Regions from separate parts of the Homo sapiens genome. Here all the other regions are linked to region 1. Evidence: fine-mapped expression QTL. A gene starts in region 1. Each other region holds a variant in brackets. All regions are shown on one strand. Distances are from middle to middle. Region 1 holds the start of FERRY3 (FERRY endosomal RAB5 effector complex subunit 3). Region 2 overlaps FERRY3 (FERRY endosomal RAB5 effector complex subunit 3). Region 3 has its middle 19 kb from the start of FGF6.

Evidence for each region. PIP is the estimated chance that this variant, and not a neighbour inherited with it, causes the effect.
Region 2: its variant is the best candidate, but not a certain one, in a credible set for the expression of FERRY3 in blood mononuclear cells (TOPMed, PIP 0.76).
Region 3: its variant is the best candidate, but not a certain one, in a credible set for the expression of FERRY3 in whole blood (INTERVAL, PIP 0.63).

Annotation. Positions count from the first base shown.
Region 1 is chr12:4,536,073-4,540,385 of GRCh38, forward strand. FERRY3 (FERRY endosomal RAB5 effector complex subunit 3) reads right to left here and starts at 2,397. Exons shown (of 14, transcript NM_020374.4): 1 at 2,337-2,397; 2 at 1-147. The coding sequence starts at 122. It overlaps RAD51AP1 (RAD51 associated protein 1), which reads left to right and starts at 2,818. Exons shown (of 9, transcript NM_006479.5): 1 at 2,818-2,884. The coding sequence starts at 2,868. RefSeq lists enhancers at 2,032-2,641, 2,642-3,250 and a silencer at 2,377-2,426.
Region 2 is chr12:4,492,793-4,496,792 of GRCh38, forward strand. The region is part of intron 11 of FERRY3 (FERRY endosomal RAB5 effector complex subunit 3); the gene reads right to left. Among named protein-coding and RNA genes, the nearest start is that of FERRY3, 44 kb to the right of the region's middle. The variant G/A (reference allele first, on the strand shown) is at 2,158.
Region 3 is chr12:4,462,288-4,466,649 of GRCh38, forward strand. No RefSeq gene overlaps it. Among named protein-coding and RNA genes, the nearest start is that of FGF6, 19 kb to the left of the region's middle. The variant C/T (reference allele first, on the strand shown) is at 1,886.

The sequences.
Region 1 (4,313 bases):
CTGGCATTCTCTTGAACAGGAAATTTGAGTGGCACTCTCAGTTCTAAGCACTGACTTCCTACTTTAAATTTATATACAAATTCTCTCTCTCTATTGCAGAATCTTTCTCTGTTTTTCTTCATATTCTTTGACAGGATTTCTACAGAACTAACAAAAAAGCAGTAGGTTATAAGTCCATAAAGAAATTATGTTTCATTATTGCTGTCCCATTTCTAAGAAAACATTCCACCATTCAAGAGATTTTGTCTATGAGCCAATTATTCTAGTTTTTCCCAAGTGTTTATCCCTGTACTTCCATCTTCATGATGAAAACAAAGTGCTTCTTTAAAAAAAAAAAAAAAGACACTTTGTTTTAAACTTGATTTAAGAAAAAAAATTATGGCCATAAAGTACTTTATATTCCAAGGCAGGGTTCTCAATAATAGGGAAGGACCATGGAGAGAAGAGCAGAGAGAATTCTTAGGGAGAGTTCATGGGTGGGGAAATACAAAGCTTAAGAAACCGTTGGTAAAAAGAAAGTCAAAGAAGCAGATCAGGGACCAAGGAGTGATCCTGGAGAACTTAGAGGTTGTGGTCATGAGATCCGACTGGGGGAAGGGGAGTAAGAAAGTGTTAGAAAGATTTCCATGTGGGAAGAAGATACACAGAAAAGAGAGAGTACAGGACCTCCACTTCCGGCCCACACCCCAAAGGCAAACTAGACACTACTAAGGAAGAAGAAAATCTAGTTAAAGGCAGTAAGAATCAACATCAATTAAAGATTTATTTATTCATCAGCCTTGTAACTGGACTTCCTATGGCTAGGCTTTCTCCCATCAAATCAGTTCTTACATTATTTTCTACACTGAAGTTATAGTAATCTTCCTTTTTAAAAAAGGAATATACTTATCTGATCATGTTGTTCATCCGCTTAAAAACTTTCTATGACATTCCATTGCTCTCAGGATAAAATGCAAACTCTTTATCCCAGTTTACAACACCCCTGCTTATATTTCCACTCTTCTCTCAGAAACTGCACCTCTCCTTCCTAATACACAAATTCACAAATTTTATTTTCCAGCCATTCTGAACTTCTGTCAACACCAAACTTCTCCTTCCATGCCGAATCTTTTTGAATGCCTTTTCCTTTGCCTAGAGCACTCTTACTGATCTTAATTTCATTGGATAACAATTGCTAATTCTTCAGGTCTCAGTTAAGCCTCTAGGAAGACTTATCCAACTCCCTAAAACTGGATTGGGTCCCGACAGGCTCTCATATTAGCCTAGACTTATTTGAATCATGGCACTTATCACGCTCTATTTCTTACTCTTGGCTAGAAAACAGTCTTCTTGAAGTGGAAGGAATACTGTCTTGTATTCCATGTATTAGGCAGGATGTTGCGAATGGCAAGAACTAATAAATAATTGTTGGATTGTATGGCGTTTTTATTTTATGGTGCTCACTGGAAAAATAAAGAACAAAAAATTATTCATACGGTTATTTAAAAAGATATCACCTGAAATATAAAAAAAACTCAAAGGACTTTTGTACATGTCGTGGGGCGGGGCTAAGTTGAATTATCCAGACTATATTTTCAAATCTGTATGTAGGCTATACACAAAAATCTTCGTCTATTTCACCATAATGCAAAGAGATAGGGTATTTGTTTTACTCAGAAAGAATTAAAATTAAACGTAAAGCAATACAAATTTTTATAATGTTAGAAAACTACCAAAACTACATAAAGGTATATTCTATGATGTAGAAATTTCATTCCTAAGTATATATCCAAATACACACACACGCATATGTTCGCTAAAGTACACCCAGAAGAATGCTCATATAAGTTTTATTTATAATACCCCAAACTGGAAACAACCAAAATGCGTATTAGTAGGAGAATAGTAAACTTGTTTATTTTATGAGATAAATACTACACAGCAATAAAAAAGAATCAACCACTGATAAATGCAAAAATATGAATGAATCAGGAATGTTGAAAAAAAAAAGAGAAGGCAGACACAAAAGCTCTGGTTCAACATTTAGACTTGTGTTTCAAGAAACTGATAACTTTAGTTCTTTCTCCTCTCGCTCTTTTTTTAGACTAATGGTCTATCCTGAAGCCTGGGTTCAGTTTTAGCAACCGTGAAATCCAGGAAGGTTTCCCATAAGAAAATGGGATGGAAGGTCTGGACCGAACACACACAGCCAACAGAGCGGAGGCTCTGAGGCTCACATTAATCAGGGAAAAGGAAGACAGACGGTCGAGCTGAGAAACTTCAGCCGGGTGAGGGGACTAATCCCTCTGTAACGGTTGTCAGTCTGAAAGGGCATCCTCACTCGGTTCTGGGCTCACCTCGTCTAGTTCCGAAGTCCTGGGCAGTCCGCTCACTCGAGCTGTCAGCGCGTCCTGCACTGGGAAACCAGCTGACTTGCCGACATACTTTTTCCACACCGCGGATCCGCGAACGTAGATTCGCCACATCCTTTTCTATTTCCTGGCATCTTGTAGAAAATTTCTCAGTCCAAGTGCCCCTATGTCCCAACCTGTTTCAATTTAACAATTTGAAAGGTGCAATAAGGTGTATTTCTATTGTTATTCTGTATTTCAGAGACAGGGCAAATCCGCCGTTGTGACGAAAGTGCAGGGACAAAGCACAAACTCGGCTCTGGTGGACCGGATACGGAAAAGCGGTGCCTTGGGGAGGGCGGGAGCAAATTCGCTTTCCCCACAGCGCGTGCGCCGCCGCAAGCATGGCTGGTGATGATTGGACGACTGGTAACAGGGGGCGGAGGGCTCCGAAGTCTGGTTTTGGGCGGGAATTGAAACCGCCGCTGAAGCCAACAAGAATTTGAGAACTGTAAATACCAAGCCTTGAAAGGGACCATGGTGCGGCCTGTGAGGTGGGTAGTTCCTGACATTCGTCGGGGGTGGGAGGAAAACTAAGGGAAAAGACATGAGACTAAGGGGAAAGGATCGAGTAAGACCGGAGGGCAGCGATGGTGGGGTTAGGATGGACGGTTATCAAGAACCCAGTCTCCAGTGAGAGCCACCCGTTGCTCAGAAGTATCCTAGCATCGTAGCTTTTTCCTTCTCTTTGCCTCCCTTCACAACCGTCGCCGTTTCTTTTACCAAGACCTTGTTAGCGTTTGAACAGCGCTTTACATTTCACCGAGCGCCCAATTATGTGTTATTTTATTTGTTTATCACTGTAGTTATTTGATATAGAAAGAGTAAGCATTCCTGTTGTATTGATTTAACATTTCTACGTATAGAGGGTAAGTTATCTGAGTCATACAGCCCAGTAAGTGGCAGGGCAATACTCAAACCTAAGTCATCTCACTCAAGATCCTCTGTGCTTTCCATCGTGGTATTAGAAACGATTCTTCTATTTACACAGTTGAGTGCCATGGAAGCCTATAGTTAGCCATTCATTTAATAAAGTTATTGAATATATTCACTTCTTTAGTGTACGAGGTGCTGGAGGTTACATTCCAGTGGGAGGTGAGGTTAGGGGGCCGAAAATAAGCCTCGAAATATGAGAGTGCGAAAGAGGAAAGCACTACTTTAAATATAGTAGTTAATATGTGACTCTGAGGCGATAATGCATGCACTGAGTCATGAATCAGGGTAGAGGGAATAGGAGCCAAGGCCCCATACTTGACCATATTTTAGGGACAGTCTAATGCTATAGGATTAACAAGCAGTGGGGAGAATCGTAGGGGGATTAGGCCAGAGAAATAGGCAGGTGCCAGAACAGATAGGGTCTTGTAAGTCTTAGAAAGGAGTTTAGGTTTTATTTTAAGTCAATGGGAAGTCAGTGGAGGGTTTTAAGTAGGGGAGAGGAATCTAAGTTTGCTTTTATAAAGGTCACTGGCTGTTGGTGGAGAATAAATGATGGATAGGGTGACCAGAACGGGAGCAGGAAAATCAGGTATTATATCATTGGAGAGCGGTTTGGGATAGGGTATTATTAGTGGGCATGGAATGGAACAGATGAATTTGGGATGTATTTCGGAGGCACTGTGGACAGAACTTGCTGATGAAGTAGATGTACAGGTAAGGGAAAGAAAGAATCAGAGATGACTCCACAATAGTTTTGGTCTGAGCTACAGGATGGATGATCTTTGTATTAAGATAGGGAAGACTAGGAAAAGGAAGGTTAGGAGGTGTGAGGGATCAAGATTTCTGTTTCGAACATGCTGAATTTGAAATGGGTTTTAAGCATCCAGGCAGTGGAGTCATAATCCCTTTGTAAGGAACAGCAGTTGTTAAAGTATGGTCTACAGACCTCTGTGGGTCCCTGGAAACTTCTCTAGAGGTCTATGAGGT
Region 2 (4,000 bases), 43 kb before region 1:
CTCCTGTTTTAAGAACTTACAATTGCTTCCTACTGTCTCACACATAATATGTAAGCCTTTCTTTTACTATTTAAGGCTACATACTTTAAAGCCAAAGCTACTTTAAGCTTCTGTGACTTTTAAATTTTTAAAAATGAAGGTTTCATTCAAGTATATCTGCTCACATTTGCCTAAACATGGTCTGCAATGCCTGTCACCCACCTCCCTCCATTTTTCCTCAATCTGTTTCTTCTACCTACAATGCCCTTCTCGGTAATTCCATCTATTGAACCTGATCTTCATTTTTCAATGTCCAGCTTAATTGCCATCTCCTCCATACAGTATTTCCTATTTTTCCAGCTACAAATATGTCTCCATTTTCTGAACTCCCAAAGTACTTTACTGTTCTTTTATCTCAATGCTCACATTTTTATCCTGTCGTTTTTGGGGAGGAGGGCAGAGGAATGGGCAGAAGAATGGGATTTATTCTTTCTCTTCTTGATTAAGTTGTGTGCTCTCTGAAGGTAGAAGCCACTTTTTATTCACCCTTATTACCTTTACAATGCCTTCTATAATACTGAGCAATACACATGCTCAAAAACATAGGTTGAGTGAATTAGCTTTTATCCATGGACATTTAAAAAGAATGTGACTTTCTCTGTAGCCAGAAATAGGGTTTAATAGGAAGCTACTTTTAAATTTGTGTCCAAGACACTTTGTTTTAAGATTGATTAAAGAAAGGTCTAGTTTTTTAGTTGGCTAAAAAGTAAAGAATCCTCTTGGGTTAGGTTCTGGAAGCTTCTAAAAATTCACTAGAATTTTCTGATATTCCACTTTAAGTTATAACACTTTGGCTTCAAAGTTCACAGAAAGAAGAGTATTTCCTTCTAACTGCAAAGGCTGCTACAAAAGAGCTACAGTGGTCTTATGGAGTACACACATGCATGGAGGGACAAGTGTTTGGTTTTTTTGTATTACTTCCTCCTAGTGAAAAGATGATGTACAGAGAGAACGAGGTGACTAAGAAATGTCTACAGCTGGCCGGGAGTGGTGGCTCACACCTGTAATCCCAGCACTTTGGGAGGCCGAGGCAGGCGGATCATCTGAGGTCAGAAGTTCGAGACCAGCCTGGCCAACGTGGTGAAACCCCGTCTCTACTAAAAATACAAAAATTAGCTGGGCATGATGGTGGGCGCCTGTAATCCCAGCTACTTGGGAGGATGAGGCAGGAGAATTGCTTGAACCTGCAAGACGGAGGTTGCAGTGAGCTGAGATCACGCCACTGTACTCCAGCCTGGGTAACAGAGCAGGACTCCGTCTCAAAAAATAAATAAATAAATAAATGTCTACCGCTACGGAGCAATGCTGATGGCTCTAAAAACTACAATAATAATGTCTTATGTTTACATGGAACTTTACAATATAAATAATCTAACAAAAATAACCTTTATAAATTTAAAAAAAAAAGATGCTCAGAGAGGTACAGCGAATTGCTTATGTGACAGCCTGAGGCTTGAATTTTCATTTTCTTAATAGCATCTTTTGATGAGCTAAAGTTTTGAATTTTAAAATATAATTTATTACGTTCGTCTTTTATGGCTTATGCCTTTGTGGCCTAACAAATTTTAACCTGCTTAACCTGATGTCATCAGGATTTTCTTTTATGTTTTCCTCTAGAAGCATTATAATATTAGCTCTTTTGTTTAGGTCTGATCCATTTTAAATTAATTTTTATATATGATATAATGTAAGGGTTACGATTGTCTTTTCTATACGAATACCCAGTTGTTTCAACAACACTGAAAAGATTATCCTTTCTCCCACTGCATTGCCTTGGCATCTTTGCTGGAGATCAAATGACCATATATGTATGGATTTATGTCTGGATGCTTTATTCTGTTTTCTGATCCACAGTCTATTCTTTTGCCAATATCACATTGCACTGATTACTGTAACTTCATAGCAGGTTCTGAAATTAGTTAGTGTAAGTTCTTTAACTTTGTTCTTTTTCAAAATTGTTTTGGCTGTTTCAGGTCCTGTGCATTTCCATATACATTTTAGAATTAGCTTGTCAAAATCTCAAAATTACCTTATAAGAATTCCAATTGAGATTTAAATCTATAGATCAATTTTAGAACTATTATCTTGACAATATTGAGTGTTCCAATCCATGAGTAC[G/A]GGATATATTTCCATTTATTTAGGTCTTTTAAAATATCTCTCAGCAATGTTTTATAGTTGCCAGATCACTTTTCATAACATCTTTTTACTTGAAGGCATTTCAAGCTTGTCTTCAGTTCTTTAAACACAGTAATCAACTATTGTATGGTCTGTGTTTTATAATTCCAGTGCTTCAAGTCTTTGTGCATCTGTTTTTATGTTCAGTTGTTTCTGCTGATTCTCATTCACGGCATCTAATTTCATTAAGGACCTACTTATTCACTTACGTTAAACATTTTATTCAAGAACCCACATGTAGGAATAAATACTATTGTATAACTATTTGTATCATCTTAAAATATTACTCTAAAACCAATCATTTTTTGAAATACTATGATAGTAATCAGAATCAAGGAATTAGTACTATTTATACTGTTTTAATGAAGCACTCATTTTTAAATATAAAAAAGCATTTTCTGACAGTAACTTTTCTTATAATCCAGAATTTACTGACATCTATGATTAGCCTTGAATTATTTCAGGCTAAGGTCAAGTCTAAGCACCACTAGTCACAGGAGGACAACTAATGTGAACTGTAAGCATAGAGCTTATTGAAGGGCTAGTTTTGAATACCCACAAATAGAATACATATTATTCCAATGCATTAAAATTAGGATACTAATGGTAATAATGAAAGATTGTAACGCAAGTTAAAATAGGGATGGGTTAAATGGTATGACCAAAAGTAGGTAGGGGAAGAGTAATGAAGTTCGTTGTCCCACTTGTCCAAAGGTCATCACGTTTTCCTCATTAATACCCTGCTTTCTTGCTTTGTGTATATGTGTGATTAATAGCATGGTCTAGAGCAAGTATTTGTGATACAAATTAAGAACTTCACACTTTTCAGAATTTGGTATGAATTAATGACAAAATTTCATCAATGCTATTTAGAGAATATACCAAAATACCAATTTGTGACAGGACCCTAGCAAATCTTTGAAGTGACGGACATATTTTAAAAATAAATTTAATTCTCAGATGATATAAACTCTCATATTCAGTATACTTTAACTTAATGCCACTTAGCAGCGTATGACTCTAAGAGGAAACTAGACAGCTACCTGTATATGCATGTGCACGCACACAAACACACACACACATACGTCTGAGTTGTTTTCAAATCTTCCATGTGCCTCCATAGAGACTCCACCGTTAGCTTAAGATAGATGCTTGCAAGGTTTTTTAATCCTGTCCTTTTGTCTCTGATTAAAACCAGCACCTAAAAAGAATGGCTTTGGGTACTTAGAAAAAGTAAACTGTGAGCTTTAGAATTCAATAAGGTCATGAGAAGAATGACTTATTCAATGTCACCATGAGTTGTGGTCAGCAGTTTCACAAGGAGCTCACTTCTGGAAACAAATCTTAGTATATATGATATAATAGATGGTATAGACAACATAGTGGGCCAGGTAACAGTACAGAAAGTTTTTGATCATAAGTTCTAAATAATGGAAAAGTGACTAAATCTTAGTAACATGCCTGTGAGAATGCACTGTTAGAGAAATCCAATGAAGCTGGAAGGATCAGGTGAAACACTATAGACTTTATAACTGGCCAAAAATTGGGCCCTACTGTCACACTTTAGATGACATGTGCAAAGAAGATTCTAAACCTATGAAAATGAAATTGAAATCTCAGTTCTGACTATAACTGAGACAACGCCTTCTATCTAAAGCTCACTGTTACTCAACTTGAATCCTCTCATTAGGGTAAGGCTGAACTGCAGAGTTAGCCAGTATGTTCTTTTGAAGTCTTCACTGTATGTCTTGGAATTCAGATATAAGAATTATTATCTGAGTTTATG
Region 3 (4,362 bases), 74 kb before region 1:
CCCGTCTCTACTAAAAACATAAAAATTCGCTGGGTGTGGTGGCACGCACCTGTAGTCCCAGCTACTTGGGAGGCTGAGGCAGGAGAATCACTTGAACCTGGGAGGCAGAGGTTGCAGTGAGCCGAGATCGTGTCACTGCACTCCAGCCTGGCGACAGAGCGAGACTCCATCTTGCAAAAAAAAAAAAAAAAAAAAAAAAGAATCTTAAAGCAACCAAAGGGAAAAACAAAGTTGAGGATGACCATACATTTTTGTAGGATATATTGAGAGCAAGAAGACAGGGACCAACATCGTTAAAATACTGCAAGAAAACAGTCAATCTAGAATTCTATGCCTAACAAAATATATTTTAAAAAGGCAAAATGATGACATTTGCGGCCAGTAAGAGTTAAATATTAAAGTGAGTCCTTTAGGAAGAAGAAAAATGATGCCAGATAGAAATGCAGACTACATAAAGGAATGAAAAGCACCCAAAATGGTAAATATGTTGGCAAATATATAAGATTTTTTAAAAAGTCATTTAAGTATATTTAAGACATAATTGATTAAACACAAATAATAACAATGTAGCGTAGAGTTTATAATACATGTAGAAATAGAATTTATGACAATAGCAGAAAGTTCAGGAAGAGACAAATGTTATAAAGTTCTTATGTTATACAGGAAGTAATAGAATGACACTTGAAGGTGGACTGTGATGTTAAAAATGTGCTATAAACTGTAAAGCAACTATTAAAAGAATAACAGACTTACAGTTAATAAGTCAACAAAAATGGGATGTTTAAAAGTACTCAGTTAACTCAAAGAAAAGCAGAAAAAGAAGAAAAAGGGAACAGAGATAAGACAAATAGAAAAATAGTGATGTTAGATTTAAACTCAGTCATACCAATAATCACATTAAATACAAATAGTACAAATATGTCAATTAACAGCTGAGATTGGCATATTAGATAAAACAGAATGATGATGTATGTTGCCTAGAACAAAGCCATTGTAAATATAAAGATACAAATATCTCAAAAATAAATCAAGAGACAGCTTGAGTGTCTAAAAGCTGGAGTGCCAAAATAGATTTCAAAGCAAAGAATGCTATAAGCAACAAAGAAGGTGATTTCATAATGGAAAAGGGGTCAAATAATAGAAGTGAGCATAACGATCATAACTATTTATGCACCTGATAGTAGAATTTTAGAAAACATGACGCAAAACTGATATAATTACAGAAAGAAATAGACAAATCCACAACTACAGTCAGAGATTTCAATACTCTGTCTCAATAAGTCATAGAACACGTAAACTGAAAATTAGTAGGGATGGAGGTTATCAACAAATCTTATCTAATATGAATTTCAAGAGCTCTCCATCCAGTAATAGCAGAATACTCATTATTTTTAAGGGCACATGGTACATTTACCCAAGTAGATCATGGCTTCACTGGTAAATTTTACCAAACATTTAAGGAAAAAATAATATCTGTTCTACACGAACTCTTCCAGAAAATTGATGAAGAGGATACTTCTCAATTAAACCAGCATTTTTACCACACCCAGATAAAAACGTTAGAATTAAAATAATAACAGCAAACAACAGCAATTATAGCCCAATATCTTTCATGAACATAGATGCAAACTTTTTTTTTTTTTTTGAGACGGAGTCTTGCTCTGTTGCCCAGGCTAGAGTGCAAGTGGCAGAATCTTGCCTCACTGCAAGCTCCACCTCCTGGGTTCACGCCATTCTCCTGCCTCAGCCTCCCGAGTAGCTGGGACTACAGGCGCCCGCCACCATGCCCAGCTAATTTTTTTGCGTGTGTATTTTTAGTAGAGACGGGGTTTCACCATGTTAGCCAGGATGGTCTCGATCTCCTGACCTCATGATCTGCCTGCCT[C/T]GGCCTCCCAAAGTGCTAGGATTACAGGCGTGAGCCACTGCATCCGGCCAGATGCAAACATTCTTAATACAATTTTAGCAAATCAGTTACAACAATATATAAAAGGATAACATATCATAACTTCATGGGATTTTTCCCAAAAATGCAATCTTAGTTTAACATTCAAAAACCAATGTAATTCACCATTTAACAAACAAAAAAAGGTTATGATAATCTCAATGTACACAGAAAAAGCATTTGACAGAATTAATATCCATTCCTAATGAAAACTCTCAGAAAATCAAGAACAAACTGGAAATGCCTAAGCTTGGTAAAGGGCATCTGTGAAAAACCTATTCTAACATTATACTTAATGGTTTAAGATTAAATACTTTCACCCTAATATTGGAAACAAGTCAAACATATTTGCTGTCATTACTTCTATTTGACATTATACTAAAGGTTCTAACCAGTGCAATTAGGCAAGAAAAAGAAGTAAAAGTCTTCTATATTGGAGAGAAAGAAGAAAAACTGTATTTGCAGAGAATATGATTCTCTGGAGAGAAAGTCCCAAGGAGTTAACAACAACAACAACAACACCACCACAAAAAAGTTGGTAGTATAACGAACAGCCTACAAGTGAAATTAAGAAAATAATTCTATTCACAATAGCAGCAAAAAAAATGTAATACTTAGGAATAAATTCAGCCAAAGACATTCAAAACTTACACACTGAAAACTACAAAGGATTGCTGAGAGAAATGTTAAAAGATCTAAATAAATGCATAGTCATTTGTGATGGTTAATTTTGTGTCAACTTTGTTGGGTTACGGAGCGCAGCTATTAGGTCAAACATTATTCTGGATGTCCCTGCGAGGCTGTTTTTAGATAAGTTTACCATTTAAATGGGTAAACTTTGAATAAAGCATGCTCTCCTCCATAATGTGAGTGAGCCTCACCCAGTCAGTGGAAGGCCAGAATAGAACAAAAGGACTGACCTCCCCTGAGCAAGAAGGGATTCTGCAGCAGGTGGTCTTCAGATTAAACCTCTACCTCTACATGTACAAAACCAACTACGTATACAAGACCGTATACAAAAATCAACTCAAAATGGATTCAAGACTTAAACGTAAAACCCAGAACTATGAAATTACTATAAGAAAACATAGGGGAATTACTTCACAAATTGGGTTGGGTAAGGAGTCTTTAAATAAGACCTCAAAAGCACAAGTAACAAAAGCAAAAATGGACAAATGAGACTATATCCAACTAAAAAGCTTTTCCAAAGCAAAAACAAAAATAAAAAAAAAAACAGAGTTGAGACAACCTACAGAATGAGAGAAGGTATTTGCAAAGTATACATCTGTCAAGGATTAATATCCAGAATAGATAAGGAATTCAAAGAACTCAACAGCAAAACAACAACAACAACAACAAAGCAAAGCAAAACAAAAAAAGTCTGATTTTAAAATGGGCAAAAGACCTTAATAGACATTTCTTAAAAGAAGACACACCAATGGCCAACAGGCATATGAAGAAATGCTCAACATCACTAATCATCAGGGAAATGCAAATCAAAACTACCGTGAGCCACCATCTCACTCCAGTTAGAATAGCTGTTGTAAAAAAGATGAAAGAAAACAAGTGTTAGTGAGGATGTGGAGAAAAGGGAACACTTACACATTGTTGGTGGAATTGTAAACTAGTACAGCCATTATGAAAAACAGCATGGAGTTTCCTAAAAATATTAAAAGTAGAACTACCATATTATGCAGCAATCCTACTACAAAGTGTAAGTCCAAAGGAAATGAAATCAGTATGCCAAAGAGATATCTGCACTCTCATGTTTATTGCACCACTATTTACAATAGCCAAGATATGAAGATACGGAATCAATGTAAGTGTCCATCAACAGATAAATGGAGAAAGAAATATATATATATATATATACGCACACACAATGAAATACTATTCAGCTATAAAAAGAATGAAATCCTGTCATTCATGACAACATGGATGGACGTGGAAGACACCATGTGAAGTAAAATGAACCAGACATAGAAAGACAAATACTGCATTATCTCACTTATATATGGAATCTAAAAACATAAGAGTTGATATTATAGAAGCAGAGAGTATAACAGTGGTTACCAGAGACTGGGAAGGGGAAGGGGAAGAAGCAGATGAGGAGAGGTTGGTCAATGGGAGCAAAGTCACCACTGATGGGAGGAATAAGTTCTGGTGTTCTATTGTATGGTGGGGTGATTATGGCTAATAGTAAAATACTGTATATCGCAAAATAGCTAGAAGAGAGACTTTTGAATGTTCTCACCACAAAGAAATGATAAATGCATGAGGTGATAGATGAGGTGTCATTAGAGAAATACAAATAAAAACTACAATAAGATATCCTTTCACACCCACTAGAAAGGCTCTATAATAAAAAACATAGACAATAACAAGGGTTTGTGAGATTGTGGAAAAGAAAAAACTGAAAC